Regions from separate parts of the Homo sapiens genome. Here regions 2 and 3 are each reported to be linked to region 1. The links are microRNA targets in miRTarBase. Many come from high-throughput screens and were not tested one by one. Region 1 holds a microRNA gene; each other region holds the end of a gene's coding sequence.

Region 1 (10,175 bases):
GACTGAAGAATCCACTTTTGGCTTTCTGTCTCATTTATCTGGATTCCAAATAGGCTTGAGAGTTAAGGTTAATCATATTTTCATTTTACAGATAGTGAAAATTTGGAGTACATTAAAGTATCTTAGGGACATAATTTCTAGCTTATTGTTTCTCTCTCTAGAGGTCTTATATGTGATCAAATACAGTATCTCAATTGTTTACCAGACATTTCCCTAAAATCTGTATATCTTTTCTAAAGGGTATTCAAATGAAGCCAAAGACTTGTAAGCAGAGTGGTCTTAGAAAACCTAAAGACTCCTTACTGGAGAAGGAACCCCAGGAGGAGCACCTGAGAAGCCAGTTCATCATGATGTTCCCCTCTAGTTAGTATTGTCTCTCTGTAGTTATAGTTTCTGAGTTTTGCAGCAAGATTTGACAGATTAGGGACTTGGGTTAACAACTCTTGTGGTGATTGGGAAACCAGTTTGTATTGTGTCATTTGTGTGCTGGGATGAATTGTGATAAGATAGTGAAAGTAGGTGAAGAATAGGCTTTCTTAAGATTTGATTGTTGCAAATATGCTCTATGTGATCTTCCTCAGGTAGTGTCATTAATTAAAAATAACAGGGCAGGAGTCTTGTCATAATTTTAGGCTTCTTTTGGCTATTATCTGGAGTGTCCAGCATAAGACTGCAAGTTTTAAAGTCCCAAGGACTGGGATACAGTTGGCTGGGATGACTGGATATTAAAATGTCATCTTTCCTTACAAACTACTGCAGGGAATCAGATGGGGAAGGAGAGATTCATCAAGGTGGGTGAAAAGGTCCTCTAGGCCAGTGGCTCTCAAAGTTGAGCAATAATCCACAGGCTTGTTAAAATATAGATTGCTGAGACCCACACCTAGAGTCTCTGATTTAGTAAATCTGGGATGGGGCCCAAGAATTGGCATTTTTAACAACTTCTCTAGTGATATGGTCCAGGGGCCATAATTTTAGAACCAGTGCCCTACCCTAGGCAGAGACTATTTGAGTTATTGGAAACAGGTGATCTCAAACAGGACCTTGGTAAGTGAATGTGATGATCTAGAAGGAAAAAGGCCAGAATTGAGCACCTATAGAAGTTCAAGTCCTAGTAATTATTGTAGTTCAAGAATGTTGCTTGTTGAATGTCACTATATTATTATAGGTCTTTAAGGAGTACATTTGTAACTTCCTGTTTTCATTTCCTTTCACCGCAGAGAAATCACAGAACAGAAACTCTGCTTTTCTCTGGCCAACTAATCACTACTTGAGTTTGGAAATATAACTAACATGCCTGTAGACAATGCAAAATGATAGTAAGCAATACAACTGAGATTGGCCACTATAAAACAGAATCCTAAAATTCAGGTCACAGTTTTGAGCAATCTTTAGAGCATTGTATATGCTGAAGAGTATTTCCCAGTAATTGAGGTGTGTATAATATAACTAAAAAGCAGAGGATCACCCTTTCCAGGGTATTTCAAGAGTTTTTCCAGAGAGATCCTCCTGGTATGTCCATGCCAGGTGACGAGCCCAAATTGGGTACCTTGCAGGGTTACGGATCCTGAGGGGACTTATCTGATACAGAATTAAGTCTGTAACCAGAAAAGCTCTTTCTGTCCTGCTCTACCTTAATGATAGACAGCTCTGGCTTGGATAAGACGGTTATAGAGACTCATCTATAGGAGTTTCATGGTGAATCTTGCAGTGATCATTAAAAACAGAAGCCATTTTTGTTTATTTTGTTTTGCTATTGTTTTGGTTGGGCTGAGGGCAGGCTGCCAAAGGAGGGAAAAGTGGGACTTTCTGGGCATTCAATAAGTGTTCATCATTTAGTGGTACAGCATGGGGGAGGGCCACAGAAAACTCTAATCTGGATTTCCACAGAAGACAAACATTTGGAGCCTGGGGCCATCTTTACCAGGCAGAAATATAATTCAGGTTTTCAACAAAAGCTCAGGATCACAGATTCAGCAGACATCTAAGGTCTAGTCCTGCGGACTGGCAGTAGGTTCTGCTTGTTTGCTCTGATTAAGAGGCCGGCTGCTTGCACCTTGACTTTCATAGTCTTCATGGTACAGGTGGAAAAGGGATAATAAGTGCCACGCTCTAGGTGCTGGTGAATGAGATGATGAGCTAGGAATGCTGAGGACTTAGTTCCCAGGAGCCCTAACAAGGTCTTCGGTCATCAGCAAGACAGAGCCTCTTTACTAAAAGGGTGGGAATCCTGTTGTACTCTATTTTTACTGAAGACTGGCATAAACCCAGTCTAACAAATGATATTTTGAATGTCTCATTGACAGAGATGCCAAATCCTTCACTTATTTTGATGCTAATTACTACCAGGATGTAATTCTAAAATTATTAAGCTTTAAAAGAAAAGTCAGAATCTATGTGTTGAAAGGATAAGTGATTTTCTTTTTTTCTTGAAACAGTGACTCAAGCTGTTGCCTAAAGGAGTTGGGGCTCCTGATTTCTGAGCTAATTTCCTTTTTGTTCTTTCATACTAGCTTTCCTCTTGGTTGGAATCTGCCTATCCTGTGGTCTTACATTCCTAAAGTTAAATGACAAGGAAGTTATTTGCAGTCCACAATAACTATTTTTCTTTAAAGTTTATACATGGTTAGATTCTAAGAAAAGTCTATTAAACTGTGTTACTGGTAAATAAGTCATGCCACTTCTTTAATTAAAACTCTCCAATTGCTTGTGGAGTCCCTCACACTAAAACCCCAAATTCTTACCATAGTCTACCTAGCTATACCCTCTAATCCTCTCCTTCCAGTTTTTCTCACTGCACTCCAACCACAGCTTCCCTGTTGAGCTCAAATACAGTGATTCTCACCTTTGGCTGCACATTACAATCCCCTGGGTGCCTCTTAAACAGAGATGCCCAGATCCCATCCCAGGCATTCTGATTTATCAGTGGCACAGCCCTTGATATTGACATTTTCAAAAGCTCCCTGTGCCTCTATGTGCAGAGAGCACTGGGAACATCTGGAGACTGCAAGAGTGCACTGAGTGTACACACAAGCAAGGCAACAAGCATGGTTCCTGATGCATCATATGTACTCAGCTCTTCAAAAAATATTTCCTGCTCTGTTTAATTACATTTATCTTCTTCCCTTTTTGAAAAATGGTCACCAAAAATTGGAATTGGGAATTTTTTCATGTTTGAAAAAATGATTATTTCAACTAGCAGGAGGATACAGACAACATTTAGAAAGTTTCAGCAGCAGCTTAAAAGAGCCCTTAATGAGTCCTGAAAATTAATACGAAGCCCTCTCCTTACCAGAGGTAAGTTATTTCCTGGCTTATGGTTCAGTATTTGTGCTATTAGTATGTGAATAACTAGTTCTCAAACTTACCTCCTACTGCTCAACATCAATTTCTGGCAAGGAAATCTAATAGGTCATACTAATGTGCCTTGATACAGAAATGTAATTTTTTTTTTTTTTTTTTTTGAGACAGAGTCTCGCTCTGTCGCCCAGGTTGGAGTGCAGTGGCGCAATCTTGGCTCACTGCAACCTCCGCCTCCTGAGTTCACTCCATTCTCCTGCCTTAGCCTCCTGAGTAGCTGGGACTACAGGTGCCCGCCACCATGCCCAGCTAATTTTTTGTATTTTTAGTAGAGACAGGGTTTCACCGTGTTAGCCACGATGGTCTCGATCCCCTGACCTCATGATCCGCCTGCCTCAGCCTCCCAAAGTGCTGGGATTACAGGCGTAAGCCACTGCGCCCGGCCCAGAAATGTAATTTAATCAAACTGAGATATACAGACTTCTCTTTCTGAGGATACCTGAGGGGATATGTGCCAGTCAAGACCTTGGAAATAGCATTTTAATAATTTTTGTTGTTAAAGTTATCCCACATTTAATTATAAATTTGGTTCATCTGATTTGTTTTGTGTTACTGGGTGAATGAGGAAGATAACTGGCCTTGATTTTTCACCCTGAAGAATTACATTTGTTCTTATTCTTTTTATGGAAAAGGATTATCTGTTTCCAGGGATCACCGAGAATTAGAGTTGGGTACAGCTCAAAAGTTTCATGGCAACCTCAGCCTAAGCCATAGTTGATTCTAAATTTCAATATTATTTAGGGCAGATGAATGTGAAACACTTACAGAAGGAATGAGGAAGGGCGATTAAATGTGATAATCTGGGGAGTTGAAGTTTGAGGAGGGCCTGGCAGGAGATCGTCCTCTTTTAGACTGTTTGGAATTTGATGGAGTAGCACCCACAAAGAGAGTGGGAGGAGCTTTCAGAGGGAAAATATTTTGGGTTCAGCTTCTAACACCCAAACTCCCTTGGCTGCAATTTTTTAAAAAACCAAGTAGCACTGAAGGAGCGCAGTAAGTAGCAAGCGAATCCAATAAAGGCAAATTAATTCCCAAGGCTGGTTTCCTTTCCAGCACAACAGCACTTTAGAAAAAGACTTTACTAAGATTAAAAGAGGTTGAGCATGAAACAGTAACCATCGAAACTTTTCCCCCCGTCTTGGTCATGAAATAGAAATTTGGTGTTTAATTTTGGTTGCCATGCAAGTCTTTTGATTCGTGAGGGCTAGGAAATTGCTCTGTTTAGCATAATCCCAGAGACCACTGTGAGGGATTGTATGAACATCTCACAGTTGCCAGCTGAGATTAAGCCAACTCACAGCCATCCGTGTTAGACCTGCAAGAGAAAGTGTATGAGCAGAGGCACGTGGCTGCCTCAGGTGGAAGCACATCTTCATACATCGAGTGCACCAGCAGAAGCCCTGATGTACCCCTCTGCATTTTTCTTGAGGCGACATTATCAAGCTACTCCTCTTGCTGAATTCACAGATTTCTGGCATATGCTATATTGCATGTAATGTCATAAAAGTATAATCTTTGCATTTAGAAAGGATTTACTCTAATCCATATATAGTAAGAAACAGCCAAGTAGGAGTACAGGTGAATGTAAAACCAATCACTAAAAATGATTTTTTAAACAAGCTTTATAGAGAACTTGGAAACATCAAAGCCAAACACTCTAAAATTTGTCCTCAGACAAGAAAACCAGCAATTACGTTGAAAAAGTAATGACCGTATACTCACCAAATGGCCAGATGTGTCAATAGCGGTGGCTATTACCTTTCATAGATGGTGGTATGTCCTCCCCTCTTGCCCACATCACTGTCATGGCTAAGTGAGACTGAGCCATGATCTAAGCCCCTCAGTCCACTGGGTGGGGCTAATCAATGGTAAGAATAATGATTAAGAACGGAAGGAAGAGGAAACGCCCTCAGAGTTTCCCCACCATCTGCCGTGGATGGCATCTCAACTTGAGTGAGTGTAAGAAGCACATAGGAAACTTGTTACAAATGTAGATCCCCAGGACCTACCTCTATATTTTGATTCAGTAGGTCTGGTTTTGGTGGCTGCGATTTGCACTTCGGTGGAGATTTTCCACTGCCTTTCTCCAGCTTCACTTCATACTAGACCATTTCTTCCTCTACATTGTAGACTCCAGCTCTAACAAGTTCTGAGAATCCAATGAGCTGTGTTTGCCCATACTTGGAATTATTTCTTCTTTCTCTCTCCCTCCTCTCTCTCTCTTTCACACACACACACACACACACACACACACACACCCCCTTGTGTGACAGTCACACATTGAAAACTATCACACACTGCCTTCTCTCCCCAGTCTCCCTTTTTTGGCACCTGTAATACACAATGGTGTTTTCTCACTCACATGCTTTCTCCTTCATTGACTGCAAACTTCCAAGTGTTGGCACTGTGCTTATTCATCTCTATATCCTCAACTATACTATTCTCAGTTTAGCATCTGATGTTTAATAAGTGCTCAAAAAAATTTTGTCAAACTAAATCAAATGTTTGTTGAAGCAAAGAATTATGGATTTCAGCTCATAACTTGTCCTTTAATAATTGAGACTTGACACAATTAAGAGAGTGGTAATTTACAGAGTTAGAAAAGTGGCTTTTCGTTTTAAAAGTCAGGTAAATATAAAGTTACAAAACAATTGAGAAAGAACAATTGAATATAATCTTGTGCCTCATATGGACTCCTAAGTACAAAGCTACTTTTGTAAAATAAGAATGTCTCATCATTAGGATTTAACTTTTTAAATATTGTTCTAAGTTTATTTTCTGGAGTCAAATTGCTCAGGATTAAAAATAAGCAGATTTTATCTTAATCAAAAAACAAGGGCTTCTCAGAGCAACATGAATGACGTTCAGTTTTTTCTTTTCTCTTAATCTTATATTTGATTTTCCTTTCTCTCTAGAAAGTTTAATAGTGAAAAGTTACCATAGAGAAGTGACAGGAGTATGTAGTTCTTCTTCCCTCTGCTAGAAAACATTAAGAAAAGATCATAAATGGGAACATCATATGCTGATGTGGAAGATGAGACAGCTTTTTATTAATCTTAAGTTGTCATGTCCACAACTGCACAGGGAGGTGGGCTCTCAATGGAAGCAAAGACATATACGTTTCTGCCTTGCCTACCTTAGTGGGTTGCTGTGATGGGCATTTAAAAAAGAAAAAGGAAGAAACTGATACAAAGTTGTTTTGGCAACAAAGCTATATTAATGTGGATAGATAGTCCACAGGCCAGATAAACTGAAATACAGTAGCAAAGTATCAAGGAGTAAGCTGTTTCTAACACTATCTATACATTCTGTTCAAGTATTCTGAGGATATTATCTAAGATGTCTCTATATGCATATTTTGGGTGCACCGCAATGTATGCATTTGTGATCTTAGTTCTGTTAGAGACTCTCTATAGATTTGTATTTGAGAGTAATAAATTTCAGTTTGGTCATTGGGTCTGTTCAGATGGTGGCAATTTTCCTATTTCCCTGAAGACTAGTGTTATTTATTCAAAGCTGTAATTATTTGGATATCTTCTGAAAACCTGGAGGACTACCCCTTCCTGCAGCTATCTTGGCTGTGGAATGGTGTGTGGGGTGTCGGGAAGCACATGAGCTTTGGAGTGAAGTGGACCTTGGTGTGACTCCTGGTTCTAATACTTAACTACCTGTGGGCTTTAAGGCAAATTGTTTTATTTCTTGGAGCCTCAGTTTCTGTGTTGGTAATACTTGTGCATGAGATTAAGAACTAAATGTGGTGTTTGTGAAAATGTCTAACTAGTACAGAATCTGATACACAGATTCTCCATAAATGCTAATTTTATTTTGTTTTAATTTTACTCCTATGTCCTTTGGTTAACTCAATTACTTTTTCTGTTAGTTTTACAAATCTTCCACCTCTAGAGTTTACAAATGTTATCCAAATCCCACTCATTTTTTATGCTTGTGTCTTTTTTGTTATTTTCCTCCTTCCTAGAATTTTTTCATATCCATTTCTGTATCTTGCTTGAATTACTGGTTTATTACCAATGTACTAGGGTAGTTAGTATATAGGTCAAGAGATGTCTCAATCTCTAAGTTGAAGGGCTTCTGAGTTTACATGATGTTATTGATTCCTCTGAACCTTATGGTATCTAGAGTTGATACAAGCTGTATTTGCAATTCAGTTTTCTCTTCTTTCTCTCCATCATCTGAGACATGTCCTCCCTCAAACTTCAGCCTTGAATTCTGAAACATCTCAGGTCTTTGGATACTCAAACTCAAGCTAGTGCTGAAGTAGTATTAATTTTGTTATATTTGAGTATCTTTTGCATCCTACTTTTTGGAAATTAACTCAAAACAAAGGTAGAAAATCTATATAAATCAACTGAAAAAGTGCTGGTAGATGAGAGGACCCATGAGAATCCACTCAATGTTACTCTCTTCTGTATCCTAATTTCCTAGCAGTTATGATAACTACCTGAAGTTTCCCTAAATGAACTTCTGCTCTTTGATTTCTGGTTGAGAGTCACTATCCAAGCAATAACTCTTTTCAAGTCTGCTTCCTTTCACCTTGTCTTTTTGTTATTTCTGGGACTGGGACTCTGTATCCTCCAAGGTTTGAAAAATAGCCAAACATTATTTATTATTTTTGCAGCCTTGTAGGCATTTGGAAAATGTTTGGCTTCAAATTGATTTCAATAAAATAGTTGGCTGGAGTTACAAATGAGCATTTTGGCTGGAATTGTGTTAAATACCAGTTTGAATTTTGGTAAAGCTGCCCTGAATACATCTATCTTTGTCAATGGATTTGTTTGTTTATTAAGTGCATACTTTCTGGATTTTTGTGGGAAAAGAAGGTCAGACAGAGGAACATGAGGATTAGAAGTGATTACGAACAGGGAAAGGGATTCATGGAGAGTGGTGTCTAGAGATAAGGCATTACGAGAAGGGAATTTGAGTCATAGTGTGCATAAGTGGGTGTCGAGTCCAAAGCCAAAGCCGGAACTGCCATTGAGCTGAGCTTCCCACTGGCATGTTTTCCACATTCTGAATGGTGGAGACATTCTTGAATAGGTAGTCACAATTAACAACAGAACATAAGTATTACTGATACAAAGGATGGTTCCCATAAAAAGGCTTTATCCTTCTCTAGTTCAAGCTTCTGCAAAGCCTTAAAAAGAAGCCAGCTCCACTTCAAGAGATATGGTGCATTCTACATCCCTGTGACCCAAGCGGATAAGTAATGTCCTCAGAGAAAGCCATTATTAGTAGGTTGGATAATGATAATAGTATGAGTAATTGGAGAGAAATAAAGTAGTTTCTGTTAGAATAGTCATTGGGGGCTGCCTATATGTAATTGGGTTGCAATCCTTAAGACTAAACTTATGCCAACTTCTCTTTCATAAAAAAAGAAAATTTTGGAGGTGCTCTTTCTGCAGACCAGAGACATAATAATAATTAACTTCAGTGACATGAGCCACTGATCTGCTCCATGGAATTGAAGTTGTAATGGCTGAATCAGCTTGGACCTACCTTCTCTGGTAGAGTACATCCACAGTAAAAGAAGGAGAAAAGTTTTTCCTGGAAATATTTAGGAGACAGTGTTTAGAATCCAGATCTCTGAAGATTCTTGCAACAGAGAAGAAATGTCAGTCTAAGTTCGTCAGAGTTTTCTTTTTTCTTTTTTTCTGGAGATGGAGTCTCGCTCTGTCACCCAGTCTGGAGTGCAGTGGCACGATCTCGGCTCACTGCAACCTCTGCCTCCCGGGTTCAAGCAATTCTCCTGCCTCAGCCTCCTGAGTAGCTGGGACTACAGGCACCCGCCACCATGCCTGGCTTATTTTTTTGTATTTTTAGTAGAGACAGGGTTTCACCGTGTTGCCCAGACTGGTTTCGAACTCCTGAGCTCAGGCAATCCACCTGCCTCAGCCTCCCAAAGTGCTAGGATTACAGGCGTGAGCCACCACGCCTGGCTGTTTGTCAGAGTTTTCTAAGAGGATACTTGGTTTGGGAAGATGGAAGTGATGCTAAAGGCAACAAACATGAAAGCATGGAAGATGATTAGATACTTGCAGCCTGTAAGCCTGTAAGTCTCCACGACAGAATGTTGGGCAAGAGTGCAAAAGGGTAGACTTACCCATTGTCAGCTTCTTGGAGGCAGGGGCCAAGTTTGAGATTTCTTCTGCAATTCTCGCAGTGCCTGACTGGAACTCAATGGCTTCTTTGAGGAGTTGAGTGCCATGCCACAATCTGGCAGGATTCACATCCTATAAGAAGGTGTTTATTCTAGAAGCAAATGCATCCCCATTGTCAATTTAACTGTCTAGTGACCCAGGAAAAAGGCATAACCCCTACAAAATCTCAGTTTTCTCACTAAAAAATAGGATCCCAGTATCTATCTCACAGGCTTGCTGGGAGTTTAAATAAAAATATTTACATAAAATGCCTAACAATGTCTGACATGGAACCATACAGTACTAATAACAGTGTCAAAAGCTGCTATTTAATTAGGGATGACCATGTTCTTAGCCTTCTACTAAGCATTTTATGTAGATTATCTCATTTAATCTTGACAATAACCCTTTCAGGAAGGCTGTTACAGAAATCAAACTGAAAATGGGAGAATAACCAATAGCAATACCTTTCCATGGAGTTACAAAGCAACATGGAACTCATTTTTCAGAAATATGAGTTCCAGCAATATAGTGAGAAAAGGAGACTGAAAGAGACAGATACCAGGAGGCAGCATCATTCTCTGATTTTAAGAGCTCCTTTTGAAGAGGACCCTAAGAAAGCCACCTAGGAAGCACCTGTAAAAGGACACCTGGATCTTTATA
Region 2 (10,175 bases), not on the chromosome of region 1:
GAAGGAGCAGGAGATGGAGATGGAGAAGGAGAAGGAGAAGGAGAACGAGAAGGAGAAGGAGAAAGAGAAGGAGAAGGAGAAGGAGAAAAGGCAACCCAAGGCTATGAAGGAAATAAACAAGATGGTAGGTTAAGGAAAGGCAAATAGAGTCTCCTTTCTATTATGTAAGGTGGTCATTGACCTCTTCTCTGAGAAGGTGAAATTTCATCTGAAACCTGAAAGATAAGGAGCTGATTGTTGGAAAAGCAAGTGGACATAGTCAGAAAGGACAACTTGGATGAGGGCTTCTCAGTTTTTAGGGTTGCCTCCTTCCCCTCCAAAAAGGCTGAGTCAATCCCAGCCCAATGGGTAAAAATATGATTAGGAGTAGCCTGTCAATGTATTCCATGCCCCTGGAAATAATGACTGGTCCAGGATTAAACATACTGGCCAGTTTGGGCCAATGAGACTCTGGGAGGAGAGAAATGCTCTTTCCGGGCTGGTTGATAAACTGCAAGGTTGTGTTTGGGGCCATTAGCCATTTTGCCACCTCACAGGGAGAGTTTGCCTAAAAATGAAGCCAACACAGAGGAGAGCACATCTAAGAAGAGGGAGCAATGCATGCATGAAGTGGTCATTTGAGCACCTGAAGTCACCATTCTGAGTTTCACCCCTGGAGTTTTGTTATGAAAACCAGTAAACTCCCCTCTCTCCTCCCTGCCTTTTTTTTTTTTTTCCAAATGGAGTTTCGTTTCTGCAATGGGCAACTGAAAACATCATGATAACAAAGTTGGCTTTAGAAATGACAGAAGTAAGAGTCCATTTGTATTTAGAGGAGTGAGTGCTTGGTGAGCCCTCTGAATACTGAATATTGTAGGTAATTTTAACATAATGGCATTTGTGTATCTAAACATAGAAAAAGTACAGTAAAAGTACTGTATAAAAGATTTTAAAAATAGGATACCTGTATAGGGCTCGTGAATGGGGCTTACAGGACTAGAAGGTACTCTGGGTGGGTCAATGAGTGAGTGGTAAATGAATGTGAAGGCCTAGGACATTACTGTACTACTGTAGACTTTATAAATACTGTACACTTAGGTTACATTACATTTACTCAAAATTTCTTTTTTCAGTAATAAATTAACCTTGGCTTACTATAATTTTTTACTTTATAAACTTTTTGATGCTTTTAACTTTTTGACTGTTTTGTAATAACACAGTGTGAAACACACATTGTACAGCTGTGCACAAATATTTTCTTGGCTGGGCGCAGAGGCTCACACCTGAATTCCCTGCACTTTGGGAGGCCGAGGTGGGTGGATTACTTGAGGTCAGAAGTATGAGACCAGCTGGGCCAGCAAGGCGCAACCCCGTCTCTACCAAAAAATACAAAAATTCGCCAGGCTTGGTGGCACACACCTGTAGTCCCAGCTACTCAGGAGGCTGAGGCAGGAGAATCGCTTGAACCCGGGAGGCGGAGGTTGCAGTCAGCCAAGATCGCACCACTGTACTCCAGCCTGGGGGATAGAGTGAGACTCTGTCTCAAAGAGAATAAAAATAAAAGTAAATAAAATAATTTTTCTTTTTTATATCCTTATTCTATAAGCTTTTTACTATTTTTCATTTTAAAACAATTTTTAACTTTTTTGTTAAAAACAAGGACAAAAACAGAGACATTAGCTTAGGCCTTCACAGGGTCAGGATCATCAATATCACTGTTTTCCACCTCCACATCTTGTTCCTCTGGAAGGTTTTCATGGGCAGGAACATGCATAGAGCTGTCATCTCCTCTGATGACAATGCCTTCTTCTGGAATACTTCCTGAAGGACCTGCCATTTTAACAATTAGGAGTACTCTCTACAATAATGATAAATAGCAAATACATAAATCCGTAATATAGTCATTTATTATCAAGTATTATGTTACCGTTCATAATTGTATGTGCTATAATTCTCTATGACTGACAGTGCGGTAGGCTTGTTTATACCAACATCACCACAAACATGTGAGTAATGCATTGAGCTCATGGCATGACAGCTGCAATGTCACTAGGTGATAGAAAGTTTTCAGCTCCATTGTAATCTTATGTGACCACCATCACATATGCAATCCATCATTGACCAAAACATCATTATGTGGCACATGACTGTATTTTATTGCAAAACTTGGGTCTTAGGATCTCTGTCTGGCAGAGGATTGAGTAGGGGGTGAGAGCCGGAGAGCTGGTTATGAGAAATGAGCCATGAATAATGAGGAAGAGGGAGATGCAGCTGTAGGGATTTAATATCTTCCTTCCCTCCCTTTCTATCACCCTGGGGTTAAGGGTGAAGGAAGAAAAAAGTCCCAAATCTGTGCATCTGAAAAGGCAAAAGATTGGCAAGGGTAGAGTTTGTCCAGTCCTCTTGAAGTCCAAGCAATGAGTATCTGTTGTTTTGCTTACAGAGATTCCTCTTCCCGCTTTGGGAACAGTATCCTTTGGAGTCTGGGTGAGTCCCACCTCCTTGTCTCTTGGTCTACAAGGTTTAGGTGCTGCTGAATGAATCTAGCAGAGTGGACACGTGACCCAGACCTGGCCCACTGGTGTGTTCCATTTTTGGGTTATGGTGATCATAACCAAGTAGGGCTGATCAGAACTACTACAGGGACTTCACCATAGCAACTGGGAAAGAGGTGCTGGCTTTCTACTGGACTTTGAAACTGCCAGAGGGGACCTCATGGAGAAGACCTGCCTCCAAGAGGAGGTTGGCACCAAGAAAATTAGAGACAAGCAGATTGAATGCTTGTTTGAGCCCTTGAACCCAGGCATACGTGAAGTTATATTTGCCATTTGGACTTTATGGTAATATGAGCCAATAAATTCCTTCATTCCACTGGAGTGAAATTCCTCTGCTCACCGTTTATTCCTAGGCGAAGAGTGAGGGCTGAAAAGTATTTTTAAAAGACATTGAATGAAAGAAATCTGTGATCTCATCTGTAAGGAGTGGAAAAGGTGTGTTAATGTATTTTCCCTTGGGCTTCATAATACAGTGTTTAAATTCTAAAACAATCTTAGTAAGTCCTATAATATACTACAGGCATGTAAGAATTAATATAGCTCTTGTGGGTTGGCCTATAACCAATTAACAACCGAACTTTGGAGATACAACCTGATCCCTCTGTCAGAACTTACCTTCATTGAAAAAGAGTCATTGACAAGACTACATCAATTCTGAATACCATACAATTCTTCCTAATGTCCTTCCAGCAAAAACCAGTAAGCTGAACCTAAAGTTATAAACCAAATATTTCCTAAACATTAGGTTGTCCATATTTAAAGATGTGGGAGACATTCAACTTAAAGAACTTTTTATAGTACCACTCATACAAAAGGTACATTGAACATGTGTGTAACCAGAGTGAATATTTTCTTTGAAAATGAAAACATGTTACTTTTTAAATTCAGGAATAACAGTTTCTTAATGCCAATATTTTCCTTAATCAGAATTTTATATTTTCAATGGAGATGAAAACCTAAGCTAATTTGTTTCTTCAGAGTAATACTTTTTTAATGACAATGACGTCTACCTATGGAATCATAAACAAACGTAAGCATACTTGCCTTAGGAAAACAAAAAAAAAATTTATTGAGTTTAAATAATTTCTGTAAAATCTCCAGAATTTCCCAAACTGTGTTCTTTGGAACAATTAGCAGGTGTCTTACACACGTGCGCGCACACACACACACACACAATCCTGTGGCCAAATGAGACTGGGAAATGTTACGAACTCTCAATCCCATTAGCATAATTTAGAATGTGAGAAGTCTTGCAGTAGAAATACTTGTTCACATTTGTTTAGCTCAGCATTTCCCAAAGCTAACTTCCTCAAAATTAACTACAGTATAGCATTTCCTGACCCCAGCCCACCTCCAAACCCCCATTCCTCAAAGCAACTTGTGCAACAGCTTGTGGAACTAGTTCCATAAAGTGAAGTTTGGGAAACACTAGTTTCGTGGCTTCTATTTACATAGATTTTGCTGTCTGAATAATATGTAAGGAATTTTGAGTGACAATTGCACCCATTTGGATATATCTTCAACTGACTCCATAATTAGAAATTTAAAATGCAAATTTTTCAAAAGCAAACTGTCTTTACCATTTACATGCGTTGCTGAAATTTATTTGGTTTTGTGTATACTCATATTACTTTCCAGTGTATCTGGTATAGGTAATAGGCTCAAAAGACCTACAAATACTGAACACAAATACAATTAACCATGTCTACATTTTATGTATATACAGGACCTTGACAATTTTAATATGGCAGATTTACTCTACACTTTTTTGAGGGGAGGAGGATATATGCCTCTTGGGAAAACTGGGATAATAAAAGCTTCTTCACTTACACTCTGTTCAGACGTGTATTATGGATTCATGTTATTATGGGTACAGACATAAAGCCACTGCTATTGAGCCTCAGATGTGGCAGCAAAGAATTAAGAGATCATCACAACCTCTCTCTAAATATAATGAAAATCTAACTTTACAACGCTCCTCTTAAAGGAGCTTTCCTCATGCTACTTGGCTATGCATTAAGTCTTGGCATACACAAAAAAATAAAAACAGAGTAATTCTAAGAGTTCATTTATGTTGGCTGGATTATGAAGATTAACTTCTCAGATGGTTTTCCAAAGAAGTCATCAAATGTAAGTACAATTGAAAATAAAATCCTGAGAAACATTTCAATATTGATAGGAAACTGAAGACAGGATATAGTCAAGACACCACTCTTAGCTGTATAATATCAGTGTATATTGCAAAGGATTAAACAGTTTAATTTTCTAAAGAATATAATAAAGATTTCAGCTTCACTAAGGCATATTTTATGAAAATAATATAATTATTCTCATGGCAGAAGCATACATGCAGAATGTACAGGTTTAAAACAATTTAAATTTTAGGTCATTTGTGCTGAAGATATTTTAATGTGATACTTTGAGTTTATTACTAATTCTCTAAAATATTCCTACCCTAGGTCTTACAAACAGCAAGGTTCCTTTCTCCTAAATAGCCTGTGGCTTCTGTCCCCTGGCCAGTTTACACATGTCTTCAATCTATGTTGTAATTCAGTGCTTTGCCAAATGTGGTGTGCATGTCACTGCTAATACATATGATGATTTTAGTTGGTCCAGAAAGTATTTTCCATTTTAGTAATGAAGGTGATTATTATAAGAAAAGCTATCATTTACTAAGCATTTACTATGTGCTGTCAAGCACAAATTCTAGTATTATTAACTCGAATGGTCTTCACAAGACCACTATGTGGTAGCTACTTTTGAGGCACAGGGAGGCCAAATAACTTGCGCAAAATCATAGAGCTAGACATGGGCAGAGATAAGATTCAAACCCAGGAAGATTAACTGAGAGGTCATGTGTGGTGATTGAACGGATATAATTTATTTGAAAGTGAATTGGCTTAATAAAATTTTAAGAAATGTAACTCTGTGGATATCAAATGAAGTCATACACACTGTAGGCAAATGTCTAATCTTCAGGTAACACCACTATAACACGTTAATTGTGTGTGTGTGTGTGTGTGTGTGTGTGTGTGTGTCTGTGTGTAAGTGGGGGAAGCTAAAGATGAAGGATTCTTATGGGCTGTGAAATGACTATTTACTGGTAAATATCAGGACAGAAATGTGGGTGAAGGTATTGCTGCAGATCCCCCGGAGATGAAAAGCCCCAATTTTCAACTTACTTGCTTTTGATTTTGCCCAGAATATTCTCTCTTGTTCCAAAAGGAAATCTTTCTACTTTTACATGTTTTTAAGGGATCCTACAGTTATACTTCTAGGGAAAATATAAATAATTCAAATAGGTCTAAAAAAGAAAGGCCTTGATTATTGTATATTACAATTTAAGAAGAAAATTAAAAGTAGGAAAAAGCTGACAGTCAGATCAGAAGCATTACAGGAAGTTTCTTGCTCATTTTCTCCAGAGGTTAAGCCAGAATATATTTTTTAAAAGGGCAGAAGTTTAAGGTCTAGCTAGGGAATAAAGACATGTTTTGTCTGACACTTCCCAATTCAAATCCAACATTTATCAAATGATTCTTAAGTAGTGTATTAAAAAAAAAAGGCAACCAGGAGCTGGCAGCCTGGGTATATTAAGCTTTCATTATTGTAAATTTGTATTTTAAAAACCCAATATCTTTTCTGTAAATATGCAAGGGTTTCTCTGACAATTTCTCTTTTTTAAAGCCACCTCTCAATGAAACATTTTAAATAAAACTCCTATATCTAAAATGAAGTCTTGGCATTTGGGAGTTTAAAATCTCCCCAAATTCAGAGGGGGATAAAAAAGGTGCATAATTACACCTCATCTGAGTGTAAGTCAAAAAGTAATCAAAAATGTTTAAAACCAAAAAGTAACATCTTAGAGTGGCATTTTAAACAAAAAAAGTACTTACTGGCATTTTCTAAATTTTCATGCAATTTGTTATTCATTAAATCAGAAGAAAATGTGCACTACCATTTTTTGATATGGCAGATAGCATTCAAAATTGGCATTAACACAATAGGCCACCACTATGTGAAAAACCAAATGCTTTAATGAGGCTATCAAGAACAAGTCGATTATTTCATTGGATACATTAATATCGATCCATAATATACAGTGCTATGGACCATACAGAAATTATTGCTGCATCCAACAGCAGGTGACTATTATTAACATTACAGTACCAAGCATCCGCAAGAGACAGTCATTTGTCATTTTTTATCAAGAAATAGGGCTGTTTTATACTGTTATTGACATCAACTTTTTCCCAGTGCATTTTTCAAAAATATTAATAAGTTCATTCCTTTGTGCTTTTAACTTCCTATGTATTGTATTTGTTCTTATTGCTTTATTGTTTAAAAACAACCAGAAAGAATTTTGTCATCCTATGTATGACCAGGTTGCTTGTATGCTTTTTGGCAAAGTCAGAAGGTTTGGTATTTCCATTGCCCTACTCAGAGGCAGATGGACAATTTTGGCATTTTGGTCACTCCATATAGAGGCCCAACCCCGAGTTACAATTCTGCACCCGGGAATCGGGGGAGTGGTGTGGATCATTTTCTTGTTACAAACAACAAGCCCAAACCACTGCCTCTTGGCTTAGCTAGCCCCTGAAATGAATCCACACTCTATTTGGCAAAAAAGAAATAAATAAAACCACCCCCAAGATTGCAGCATTCTCCTGGGCTTGCTCACCTGCCACCTGCAGAAATTGTCTCTTAAGGAGAAGGGGAGGGGGAGGCAGGCAATGGCAAGGTTAGGAGTTGTGACAGTCAGGGCAGTGGTACAAGATGCCATACTTTCTTTCAACAAAGCTTTCTATATGGTTGCTTAACCATGGTCCTGTTCCCGTGGCCGTAGGTTAGTCAACCTTGCTTTATTTTTAAAAACCCTCAAAATCAGCTAAGGAAAACTAACATCATAGCATCACGATCTTCAACTTTTGCATCCAGCGCCCTCCCCCCCATATAAATATGAAGAGAAAAATAGACAATGCTATGATTGTATCAATGAACACTATGGTACAATTAGCTGTTCATGCAGATTTGCGTCACTATTCTAGGAAAAGAGCTATACAGTTAAGGGGGTTGAAAGAATGGGAACTAATTTTCCCTACCCCCTTAAGAAATAAAGCTATAAAACTGATAGCATCACCAATGTTTCCAAGGATTCTCATTGCCCAGCGTGCATGGGAACTATGCAGTTGATTATTTTCACCTAAACCGTCCATTCACACATCTGACGATCACTCCTCTCTGAACCCTCCATCACCCATCACCAATTCACATTTGACATTTAAACACTTTTTAAAAACCCTCCTGAATAAGGTTTCCTGATGAAAGAAGTTGGCACTCTGTCACTAAAATATATTTAATATTAAAAATATCTGAAGGAAAATTGGAAGCTCTTATATTGTCTACATAGGCACCATGCTACATGTTCGTCTTGACTATAGATACCATCATGAAACTTTCCCCTACATTACAGTTCAGTCAGTGCTAGTCCAAAAAAGACTACTGCTATATTTAAGGCACTTCATTCTGAATGGATATGCTTTATGCCACTTGCTATTCAGTTGTAGGCTGCTACTGAGAAATTCCATTCAACAGCCTGGCTCATAACACTATATGGCATCTGTATAAAACATCTAGGCTTGATACATGTAACACTACTGTTATTGCATAGGACTACACAAGTAGATAATGCACTGAAACTAACTTTATAACATTGCTTCTTGTTAAAACATTGTTATCAAGTAACAGTAACTTCCCAATACAGTATTTCTTTCTTAAAAATAAATTCAACAAGTTTGCTGAAATAAACCCCAATTTAAATGACCATAATGGGCGTATTAATGCTATGGTTATCAATCTCCAAGAATATTGCTATTTTCATGTCCTAAAAATAAATATGTAAGTTTATTCTTTCTAGAAAGCCTGGTTTTAACCTATTAATACTACACCTTAAATGTGTCCAAAAACAGTTCTGAGTGAGACTGTAATTTACAAAATATTCGCAAAGCTGTCTTTTAAATGCAAGACCTTGCATAAAAGTTTTCTTTCATGGGTGTACAAAGAATGCGGAAAACCACCAGTGAGTTGTAAAAATATGGAAAACTTGCCATTTTAAGATGCATATTCTTACAAATTAATACAAATATATTGAAAAGAACAATGATAATAAAGAATCTGTACAAATCAAATGAACAGTAAAACATAATTTAAAAATAAAAATAGTAAAGCCAATTAGAAATATGCCCAGTTCGGTTTTCTTATCAAAAGCAAAAATAAAATAAAAAAAAAGTAAAACATACTTTCAGTGCTCCTCAATATTTTACTTTGAGAGGACATTAATTTCCATTTCAAAATAAAATATCTTATGAAAAACTGGATCACACTCATTGATGAAGAAAACTGTAACAGCACAGAATAAAAGAGAGCAAGATTAGACTTTATATTTCAGAGCCTTGGTCTAACTCCCTTCAGTTTCGGTTGGTATCAGTTATGTTTTCTAACCAGACGATCCTCATGAAAAGGCCGCATTTTTTTTTTCTTTTACAGAATACATATTTCTTTAAATAGTTTGCAGTATAAAGACTAAACAAAGCTAGAGGGGTACTGTATCTTTAAGGCAGTACCAATGAATCAATACATTTATAAAATGGAAAAGGGTTAGTATGGATTTCTTTTCCTCTTTCTTTCTTTTTTTTTTTCTTTTTGGTTGCTTTACATTCTTTCAATTAAACTTTACATTTGATTTCCAAGGAAGTCACAGGCATAAAAATCTCAAATCAAGTTTCCCCTGAATAAAAATGGACAGACATTTCTCTGACGCAAAATCCTCTTGCTCAGAAAGCTAAAGTCTGTGGTGAATTCAGTTCACAGATACTGCACACTTATTTGTACAATACTTTGGAGGCATTTGTAGTTGTAAAATAGAATATACAAGTCTGTTTCACAAAATTCTAAAAATAAAATATATCCTGGGCTATTGATAAAGCATGAAAAAAAATTTCATATTAAAGGAAAATTATCAAGAAAACCCCTTCAGGTAAGTTATTAAATCTACGAATCAAGAAAGGAAGCAGTTTGTGCGAATGCAGTGCAGGGAGGATTCGCTAACAAGTGTGCTCCGTCTCTTCCATGCTCATACTGCTCCTCCGGCTGCTTGTTTTGGAAGCTCCGGGGGACACTGAGGAAAGGAGTGGATCAGTGACACCGACGGGAGAAAGGGTGTCGTCCATCAGGATGTCTTCCAGTTTGGATCCCATTTTTGTGGGGACACTATAGGCTTGGTTGGCCTCAGTCCCAGTTCCGAGGTTGTTGTTGAAGGTGATGGTGCCATCCGTGAGATCGAGAGTTGTTGTACAGGTTAGGTCTGCATGATGCTGAAGGAGGTCTTGGCTGCAGTTCTCAAGAACGGGTTCTTGCTTGATGATCCGATTCACCAAATCTGGAGAGCAGAGACCCGTGGATGGAATAAGGGAAAGTCCATGAGCTCGAGCCTGCATTTCAAGTTCCTATAATAAGAGTAAAGATAAAACACTGAAATAGGCAGAGCACAGAGGACTTTTAAGCCTGTGAAACCACTCTATATGATACTATAATGGTAGATGCGCGTCATTAGACATTTGGCCAAACCCACAAAATGTACAATAC
Region 3 (10,175 bases), not on the chromosome of region 1:
CCTGAGCCTTTAATGACTATACTAGTGTGTGCTTTTTCTTAATCTTGATCCTATTTGGGGGGACAGAGCTGTTTTGAGACCTATATAGGCACACTTATGAGTGGCCTCAGGCCAAATGATATATACGGTGCCTGTTCACCTGCCTTTCAGCATTCCTTTGCCACTCTCCTCAAATCCCTACCCTCATGCTCTCTACTGTCAATCACTGAGCCACCACGGTGTTAAGTTAAAAACCAATGCCCTCCCCCATATGTATCCGCCACCTTCAGTACTCTTATTGATATATTATTGAAATCCTTCAAGATGCCAGGATGAGGGTATGAGGATCAACTGGTAGAGTATAAAACCCCAGGCCATGCAGTGGGTCCCAGGAGTGATGGGGTTAAGGGGAGTGCCCACAGCCCAGTTCACATGAAGTAGGTCACCCTGTTGCGCACGTACCTAGACTATCCCAGGTAAGTGAGATATCAGCTGGTCAAACTAATGGGCTCATCCTGTCTTTCTAGGTGGTTTCATCAGTTTCAATGGCTCCTGGAGGGTCCAGGGAATCCTGGCCATGTCTCGGTCCCTGGGGGATTATCCGCTGAAAAATCTCAACGTGGTCATCCCAGACCCAGACATCCTGACCTTTGACCTGGACAAGCTTCAGCCTGAGTTCATGATCTTGGCATCAGATGGTCTCTGGGATGCTTTCAGCAATGAAGAAGCAGTTCGATTCATCAAGGAGCGCTTGGATGAACCTCACTTTGGGGCCAAGAGCATAGTTTTACAGTCATTTTACAGAGGCTGCCCTGACAATATAACAGTCATGGTGGTGAAGTTCAGAAATAGCAGCAAAACAGAAGAGCAGTGAACCCTTCAGGGGTCTCAGCTGCCTTAGACTAAAGGACTTTCAACACACTGGTCTCTTTTAATTTAGTGAAAAGTGTGGGAGTTGTAATTAGGATCATCCACCCCAGACATGGAATCCCCCCTCCCTGGTGGTCTTAGGTCTATAATCAGTGACGAACAGAGGGTGCCCTTGGCCAATGTAGTTAAGAAACTGGAAAATGGTTTCTTCATGTTTTCCCAACTCTTTCATCCAGTGTCCAAAATATATAAGTAAATAGCTGTAGAGTCACATATATGAAGTGAATAGCATATGTGTCATTTAGTCTCCCTGAAGATTCTTTTCAAGATCCTGTTCAGGGTCCTCCAGGCATCAGCTGTTGTGTCCTCTCTTTGTAACAGTGGACAGGACAGACCACCCAGTGCTGCAGGAGACAGGCCACTGCGTCACCTGTGAGTGGTCAGGGGCTGATGTGGCAACACCCTCTGCCAAGAGACAGAGCTGTCCTGAGAATGCTTTGTCCTTCTGAGCCCATGTTTTCTGCTCAGTAGCAGCTTGGAAGCAGATTTGGAATGGTTTACTATTTTGGCTGCTCTTGGGGACTGCGAGAAGCAGAGAGAATGAGAGACCAGTGGCAACTGCCTGCACAGCAGAGATAACCCTCTTCCCTTGCTTCCTTTAATAGTTAAATAGACTTTGTATACCACCTGACCAGCCTTTGTGCATTTATCCTAATCATGCATGACCGTTAACCTTTTGCTTAGTCCTTACCATATGTAATAGGCAGCTGTTAAATTCACCAACAGATACCCTGATTTTTCATCTTACGTGACCAAGAAACCACGTTAGGGGAAATGAAAAAAGCAAGCCACAATACCATGATTCCTTCCATTTTCAACAGTAGATGAAGGAAATGATACTGAATGAGTCACAGTGTTCCCTGGCAAGTAAGCTGTTTGCATTGAGAAAGGAGTGAGCTGGTGAGGTTACCACCCTGAATTGAGCTCCAGCTGCCAGTTTTTGTGTTTTTCCTTGCCCCTTTCCAAGTGGTTTTCAAGTGTCAGGCAGTGTTCTGAGAAGCAGCAGCCTATAACTGTATGTGTGTTCCTTGAAGCCAGGTGCAGAGTTCCCAGCTACTGCAGCTTGGGATTTGGTGGGAAACTACTGGGATAAGCTTCTCCTTGACAATGGAAAGGCAGCAGTCTTCAACATTTGGTTGCAAATCTCCATCCACATCAGGGAGCTTTCCCCAGGCAAATACAAACCGCCCCGTGGCCTGCAGGCCTGCAGGGGAGGCAGCAAAGGGACCTGGCAGTTGCAACACAGTAAGTCAGGAATTCAAGCGTGAACCCATATTGATAAGTGGGCCAGAATTATTTAGGGGCCTGGCTTGCTGCTCTCCATTTCCTGTATCGCTAATTTATCATTTTTCCAACCTTGGTATTTTATATTATTTAGAGAAAATGCTGGGTCACTCTCTTTGCCTAAGGTGACTCAAACAGCCAAACGAAACTTCCGTTGCCTCCCAGCCCTCTGTATCCACCTGGTTTTGTTCTTTCCCTGTGAGCATTTGTGGTTATAGCTTCCCATATGCCACATTCACCGGCCACCTCCTCGCCGTGGAACCCTGCCCTCTCCCCTCCTGCTGCTGTAGAGTTTTCCCAAAGCAGTGTCCAGGAGAGAATTTGAGAGAGTGAAGAAATTGCCTTGTAGATGTGGAGGGCTGCAATCTGTCTTGATTTCTCCAAGCACTTAACTTTCTTTGACTGCACTGAGAATTGCTAATGATTTCCCATGAGATTTGCTTACTTTTGTATACTGTATTTTCCAGCATTACAGAACCTTGGTTATTGTTTTTTAGCCATAGAATCTTCTAGTAAAAAATATCTGCCACCATTTTAGATTTAAGCATTTGCCTATGGGGAGACACTGAATATGTGGATGTGTGTATTAATATTTGGGGTGGGGACAGGGAAGGGAATGTGGAAAACAAATGCTGGCTGTGAGCAGTGCTGAGATGGCCAGGCCAGGCGGCTGAGTTTGCTTGGAAATTCAGGACATTCTGACTCCTAAGAGTTGCCCCCACCCACCATCAAACTGAAATCAGCACCAATGGTGTCAGCACTTTACAGCCCATAGCCAACTTTCTTTATTTTTAACGTAGCACAAAAATGTATAATAGCAAGGAAAAGACATTTTTAAATTCCGGTTATTTTTATTGTCTAAAATGAAAGCAACAGTGTTTTGATAAAGATGAAAAAGAAAAGCTACTAAATTAGTAAATCAGTGGTTACGTGCCCTGCAGAATTTCTTAACAGATGGTGCTGAGTGCACGAGTTACATAACTTTCTCTCTAATTGAGGTTCACAAGGCGTCTTCTAAATTTTGCTTTGTACAATTAATTCATTTCTGATGTTAACCAAATAGAGTGTATATATCCTACTCCCATTACTGCCTCTTTCCCCCCTACTATGGCTTGTAGATTTTCAAAAGATAGAAGTTCTAGGCAAAACTGTAGCAGTTTCATTAATAGTTGTTAGGATAGTTATATCTAAAATCAGAGTATTTTGTTCCCTTCCTTCTGGAGCTCTCTCTCCCTAGCCCTTTTCCAGCTGTTGGGGATGTGCAGACATCACTCCTGGGGGTGCCCTATGGTACACTGGCTGCTCCCCAGGGACCTGGGAATGCTGAATCTAGCCATTAGGGAAATTGATTTGAGATGTTTGCATGTGAAGCTTCCCTAAGCAGCACTGCCAAAGCTTTGGAATTGTCACCCAAGGCTTCCTAGACTCCCTAGCTAGCTCGAGTTCGAATTGCCAATAGTCCCCATGGTGCCAAATTTTGGGATGGTTTTACAGTCTTTTAGAAATGAAGACAGGAATGGCCATGTGCTTCTGAGACCCCAGCACGATGCCAGGCCCAGGTCTCCATTAATGCAGTGCTCTGCTGCTGCTCCACTGGCAATTTGTACTCTTAACATAGGTTGGGGGAGGGACAGCTAGGGAAATTTTTTTTAATTAATTGTATCTAAAATTCTTTCATCATAGGAATAAACAACACATATAGAAAGCTCCAAAGCTGTTCCCAAGACCTGTATTATTTATTTTATATGACCAACTTGCCCCAAGGCAATTAACTCTGAATTGCTGTTCTAATGTGACATATCTGTGTACATATGTACATAGTACTGGTAACCAGTGGCTGCATTTTATTCCTTGCTGTGGACTGAGGTATTGGCTTCTTGAATCTTGTATATGTCATAAGAATATTATACAGAGAGTGTTATAGTGAAGGATGTAAGCTGGATAATTTAAAACAGACCTTATTTCATACAAGTGTAATTATTACATCATTTTGGGTAAATGGCAAACAGGATTGCATGAGAGTGATGGCATCATCATTTCAATTGAATCTGAAGTGATTCTAGGAAATTGATTCCACTGTTGGATTCTAGGAAATTGAGTCCACTGTTTTCCTTTGCGTTTAATTTCCTTTGTGTTTAATTTGACCACAGAAACTTTTTTGAGTAGCACCTAGTAACATTGCAAGGAACTTGTGTATCAAGGTGTATCTTGATTATCCTGATTTTTTTTGTTCTCTAAGTTGTTGCCAGATCTCTCTTGCAACTGTGTCAATGAAAGGTCTGTGTTTAGAAAAGGCAGCATATCATTGTATATTTGAAACTATAGGAATATATACTTTGTATAAAACTTTTCCAATGATTTCAGAAATTCTTTTTTCCTCCTTTTGACCCACAACTAGACTGTTCATACCCTAATAGTTCCCCAAAATTGCCTTAGCATGTCACACCAGCATTTGTCATCCAGCTCTGGAGAAATGACATGACTGTTAGATACTATGCCTGTTTAATTGCCTCTGGATTAAGTCATTGATAGCTAGACTTTTGAGCTAGTTAGCTGTAGAAATAATAGAATCCAGTGTTTCCCAAAGTGTGTTCCAAAGAACACAAGTTCCAAAGATGCTCTTCTAAATATAGGATTCTAGGATGAAATAAGTTTGGAAAACACATACCATCTTAGAAAGTTAGTGAACATGAGCACATCAAAGGCTCTAATTTAAATGTCCTGTGAGGAGAGAAAAACACAACAAATATCTACTGTCAGTTAGCCCAGTGTTTTCCAGATTAATTTGACCACAGAAACTTTTTTGAGTGGCACCTAGTAACACTGCAAGGAACTTGTGTTCTAAAGAACACCCTTTGGGAAATTCTGGTATATTGAAATATTGCTGTGTTTTCATTCACGATGACTCTTAGTAGCAGTACAATTTGCAACTTAGAAGCATGAGCCTTTCATATATGAAGCTGACTTGTTAATAAAAGCAGTGTTAAGAAGTAGTATGACTTAATATGACCAACAGCAGCCTCATATTGATAGCAGAACAATCCTACTTAAAGCTCTAAACATCATCCCCCCCTTTTTTTTTTTAACGGAATCTCGCTCTGTCACCCAGGCTGGAATGCCGTGGCGCAATGTCAGGTCACTGCAAGCTCCGCCTCCCAGGTTCACACCATTCTCCTGCCTCAGCCTCCTGAGCAGCTGGGACTACAGGCGGCCTCCACCACACCTGGCTAATTTTTTGTATTTTTAGTAGAGACGGGGTTTCACCATGTTAGCCAGGATGGTCTTGATATCCTGACCTTGTAATCCACCAGCCTTGGCCTCCCAAAGTGCTGGGATTACAGGTGTGAGCCACTGCACCCGGCCATCCCTTTCTTTTATATGAATAATGAGCAAGAGCCCTGCCATAGCTAAATATGTCTCAAATTCATTCCAAGATCTTTCCATTGCTTTTTTGCAGTTACCTTTGCTTTTTGGGTTGAATCAAAATGAATATTTTTATATTTCATTACTATATGATATTTAAAAATATACAGAAAATCACAGAAAAGGAAAAACAGAAATTTGATTTTAATTCACTTTTGAAATTTTAACGATTTTTAAAACTAATGATCTGTTATATAATAACTGAAATGTAAACTATTAACAGTTATTTACTTTCTTTCCTTTATTGTCCTCTCTGGATTCAGTGAAATAATTTGAAATCAATTAGAGCTCATACCTTCTAAAACTCCTGTCCCATATCATCCCACCTTTCATGTTTTATGTACATAGTTAAGTTTGGCATGTTATCTCTTGCCTAAAATGTGAGGCCTTCCTGTAGTTCCACAGTAGTTACTCTTGGCTGCAGAAATAGGTTTGGGAAGCTATGAGAGATTACCCCAAAGTCATGGATGAAACAAATCTAGTCGAAAACATGGTACAGAGTGAATTAAGGCAAAAGTCATTAACTTAAAATTACATCCAATATTTAGGAATAGCTCATCCTCTGCACATTATCCAAAATATTTTAAAAAACTAAAAGTAAGATCTCTTAGGCTAGGTGGCGGATTGCAAAGGGCAGGGGGCAGTTGATACCATGAAGCTTCCAATAGATGCATTTCTAAACATTTTTTCTAATATGTAAATTTGCTGATCCTTAGTAATGTTAATGCTTTGTCTATTTGTTATTTTTACCACTGTTGAACAGCAAACTGTTGAGGCTAGGGTTGATTATTGATAATTTTTATGTGTTTAGTAATAACCACAGCATCATACGTACAACTGCTTTAATAAATCCAAGTTAAGGACTTTGAGGAGAGCATGTAGCAAGTATTCATTTTAACAAATCATCACAGACAGTTTCCCTGTTCAAAGCTCCACCAAAAAGCAAGCATGCAGCAAAGGCATAGACTGTATTTAGAGATGTGGTTTCATTTATTCTTGAAGTCCTATAACCTTGCATTATTTAAACACAAAATCCCACCTAACATTTGCCAAATCCAAGTTAATCTCAAAAACCTCCGAGGACATTGAGCACAAGCAGATTACTGTAAGGGCACTGGTGGCAGATTGTGGTGGAGAGAGGGCTGAGTGACCCAGAGCAAAGCCTGCCCGGGTTACTCGCTGCCACTTCAGGAGAGGGATTGTATCAGCTCTCATTACCTTTTGTCATGAGGCAGTTCATAAATTAAATATGATATCATGCATTATCTCAAAATATTTCTATATTAATTAGATAATTCACGATGTAAAACGTGTTCATGCAGAAGCAAAGGCGGATGTAATAGTCAAGTATCAGGGAAAAACCCCTTTAGGATACCCAGACATTAAAAATGTAAAAAGTAGCTTATAAGAAATGTGGATTATCAGATTTTTACTATATATAGGTTGTGTTTAATAGTAATTTCTGACACCTGCACATAGATGAAGAAAAGGCAGTTGTTACCACTTTTCACCATTCAAAAAATGGGCTTGTCTCTTAGAGTATTGGTTAATGCTTTGCTTATTTGTTAATGAAGACAGCATTTTAATTTTAAAGCTTCCTTTTGTAGGACTGATGGCACGGGCAGAATCACATTTAAGAAAAATGGTTTGGAACACTTTTTAATAAAAAATTGTAAAATCAGTTTCCAGTGTGGTCAAAATTAGAATGTAAAGGAAAGCATTTTTAAGAAAATACAGAAGCCCAAATCAAGGGAGAGTAATATAAAAGGAAATATTTTAAATTAAGAAAAGGAGGTGTTATAGTTTATTACATCATGAATTATGCTTTCTGTACTTACGCTCTTAGTGAAGGAGATAACATTGAAGTGAGAAAATGAACATTCTCAGTTATTTGCGAAGTTAGTAAAATTGCAGTCCCTATTCCATTTTTTTCTGATGAAAATGGATACATGAGATCTCATTTATTGCTCTCCTCAACACCTTTACTGTCCCAGATTCCATTCACGTTCCAAATCGTGGACAGTAAAACTGAAGTCAGATAAACACAGTCACAGGTACAACTGGGAGCGAGTTTTAACATAGTGGTAATTTTGCAAATGCCAACATGAATACTAGTGAGTACTCAATTTACGACAGACAATTTCACAAAAACCAACCACAGAGTGATTTGATATTCTTGCTTCTTAGAGAGTTTTCTAATCCATATAATGCAATGGGTCAGGTTGCTCATATGATTAAAAAAATTAATCCTGTAGAAATGATGTATTAGACATCTCTAACCCAAGAAAAAGATGTCTTTTGTATAACTTTTAAATTCCCATTTGTCTATCTTAGGACAAATGATGACTTCTTCGTGTAGTAATGAAAACGTCTAAATCCTGCTCTGTGGAGAAAAGCTAGAACCATGGGACATTAAGCAAGAATACTCCTCTGATTTAGGCTCCCAGACTACAACTAACAGTCTTTATGTATTTATCATCTTGGTTATTGTTTTATCTCAAGCATATACAGTGTGCAGAAAGTAGAATAATGAATAAAATATGACCATGGAGAAAACCCATAACTTTTGCTTCTATTATAGAAAGCAGTGTTTGTTCTTTTTAATTTATTACATGTTCACATTGAAACATTAACATCTACAATATTGTCTTTCAGTTTACTCTTCAATTACTAAAGCAAATGATTTTGATTTATAGCACTTACACAACTGCAGTTCAGGTCACAGAATTGAAATCTATTTGATAATGTCTCAGCATTCTCATGGGCAGCCAGGAAAAAAAAAAAGAGAGAGAAAGACAAATAGAAATTTTAGTGGGTTCAGATAAATGATTATTCTGACAAACCTGGAAAATAGTAATTAAACAGTTCATTCCAAAAGACCCCAATGTAAACTCTGCTCACATACATAATTTGTATAAGGAAAATGTATGAGTTTTTTTCTTAAAAATAAATAGAAGCATCATTGCATTTATAACAGATTGATCAATCTTATGAACAGATTACATTGGGAAAGTCACTATTATTGCTGTGTGTTTGTATATTTTATTCTTTCCTTTTTTGTGTGAGCATCTACTATGTGCCAGGCAGTGACTGTGTCTGAGTGAATGTATCCATGGTGAGCACTCAGGCGCCATCACTGCCTTCTTGGGGCTTACACCCTATTGGGGTGTCAGAGATATTATAACACTCAATATTGACCCAATGGGATGAAAATTGTTATCTTCATGATTTCTTCCAATGGGCTTAGATTTGTTGGGACAGGGCAGAATTAGAATAATTATTTCTCACATATAAGAGTAAGTGATATGAGATTGGGAATTTCTTGCCAACACTCAAGCAAACTGCAGAAGATAATTACTCCATTTTACTAGCTCACCTAGTTTCTGAAGGATGGGGTGGGGAGTGAGACATGGAGCCTCTGGGGACAAGGATAGGGGGGTGGGACTGTCCCAGTGGAGGGTGCCACTGGAAGCCTCCACCCAAGTGGGCCAGCAGCTGTGCAAGGGTGCAGCAGTAGGCTGGTGAAAGCCAGGTTGTCCAGATCTTTCTAGGGGAAGAGAAGGATTATAGAAAAGGAGAAAAGGGAGGAGCAAGAACATCTCTCCATGGCCTATTTTTATTTTTGTTCCCAAGAGACTAGTGTAATAACCTTATGCCCCCAAAGACAGCCCAGAACTGAGTATCTTCAGTGTTCCTGAGTGTAAATCAGTGAATCTGTTATATAGAAAGTTAACATTTCAGGAGCACAATTATTTCCTGATTTCAAATATGAACAGAAGACTAAATGTCATTTTTTTAAATCATAAATTTGGTATCCATAGTTACTTTACACATTCCAGAGTCTAAGCATGGAATTTAAGTTTTGTATTTTGAACAAAAATAGCAACATCTGTTTTCTGTATGGCAAAGAAAAACTAAATCCCAGACTTTTATTTTTAACCACAGAAACCATCACTTCTTTCTAAATTATTTGCTTGCCTGCTCATTTCCCCTAAACATCTCTGTTTATGCCAATGGCTTTTTAAATCCAAATAATACTAGTTATTGCCAAATTGCATTAGAATCCTATTGAATTAGAATAATTCATATACTTCATATACTAGGCAGTAAATGGTTAGAGACGGTAAAGATCTGATTGTGATCAAAAGTAGGGTTTTTGTTTTGTTTTTAATCATGAGCACATATAAAAGGAAATTCAAATGAAACCAAGCCAATTTCTGATTTAGTAAGATTAAAACCATAGATGGAGCTCAGTTATTAAGGATGGAAAGGAGGAAAGCACAGAGTGAGGAGAGAAAAAGGGGAAGGAAAAAAAGTAGTGTTTTTTTGGGGAACAGTATAATGTCTCAGAAGTTCTTCTCTCTTATCCTGCTGATGTTGAGACAGTGGCTTTGTATAAGCTTTTATTTATACCTATTTCAACATCATGAAAATTTTTCCATCAGCATTTTCTTGCAACTTTAAAAATCACAAGGGATTATTTGTTTATAAAGAGATACAGGATCTATAATTTATTGGCAATACTTTATTTTAGGAATCTTCAAATTGTACTTAATAAA

Evidence for each region. Region 1 holds the annotated microRNA hsa-miR-216a-5p (UAAUCUCAGCUGGCAACUGUGA, at 4,623-4,644, opposite strand). A microRNA usually pairs through its seed, bases 2 to 8, with sites in the 3' UTR of a target mRNA and lowers its output. Matches are read on the target gene's strand: a 7mer-m8 pairs with bases 2 to 8, a 7mer-A1 pairs with bases 2 to 7 and ends in A, and an 8mer does both.
Region 2: the mRNA of MITF is a reported target of hsa-miR-216a-5p. Seed matches in the 3' UTR shown: 7mer-m8 at 9,299-9,305.
Region 3: the mRNA of PPM1L is a reported target of hsa-miR-216a-5p. Seed matches in the 3' UTR shown: 7mer-m8 at 2,625-2,631, 7mer-A1 at 6,063-6,069 and 7mer-m8 at 8,923-8,929.

Annotation. Positions count from the first base shown.
Region 1 is chr2:55,984,398-55,994,572 of GRCh38, forward strand. It overlaps MIR216A (microRNA 216a), which reads right to left and starts at 4,662; the gene lies at 4,553-4,662. All of the region lies in intron 2 of MIR217HG (MIR217 host gene), which reads right to left. All of the region lies in intron 3 of LOC105374690 (a long non-coding RNA gene), which reads left to right. RefSeq lists enhancers at 963-1,022, 1,053-1,142.
Region 2 is chr3:69,964,708-69,974,882 of GRCh38, reverse strand. MITF (melanocyte inducing transcription factor) reads right to left here. Exons shown (of 10, transcript NM_001354604.2): 10 at 6,551-10,036. The coding sequence ends at 9,635. Among named protein-coding and RNA genes, the nearest start is that of SAMMSON, 30 kb to the left of the region's middle.
Region 3 is chr3:161,068,305-161,078,479 of GRCh38, forward strand. It overlaps PPM1L (protein phosphatase, Mg2+/Mn2+ dependent 1L), which reads left to right. Exons shown (of 4, transcript NM_139245.4): 4 at 507-10,175. The coding sequence ends at 853. Among named protein-coding and RNA genes, the nearest start is that of B3GALNT1, 32 kb to the right of the region's middle. RefSeq lists an enhancer at 1,392-1,441.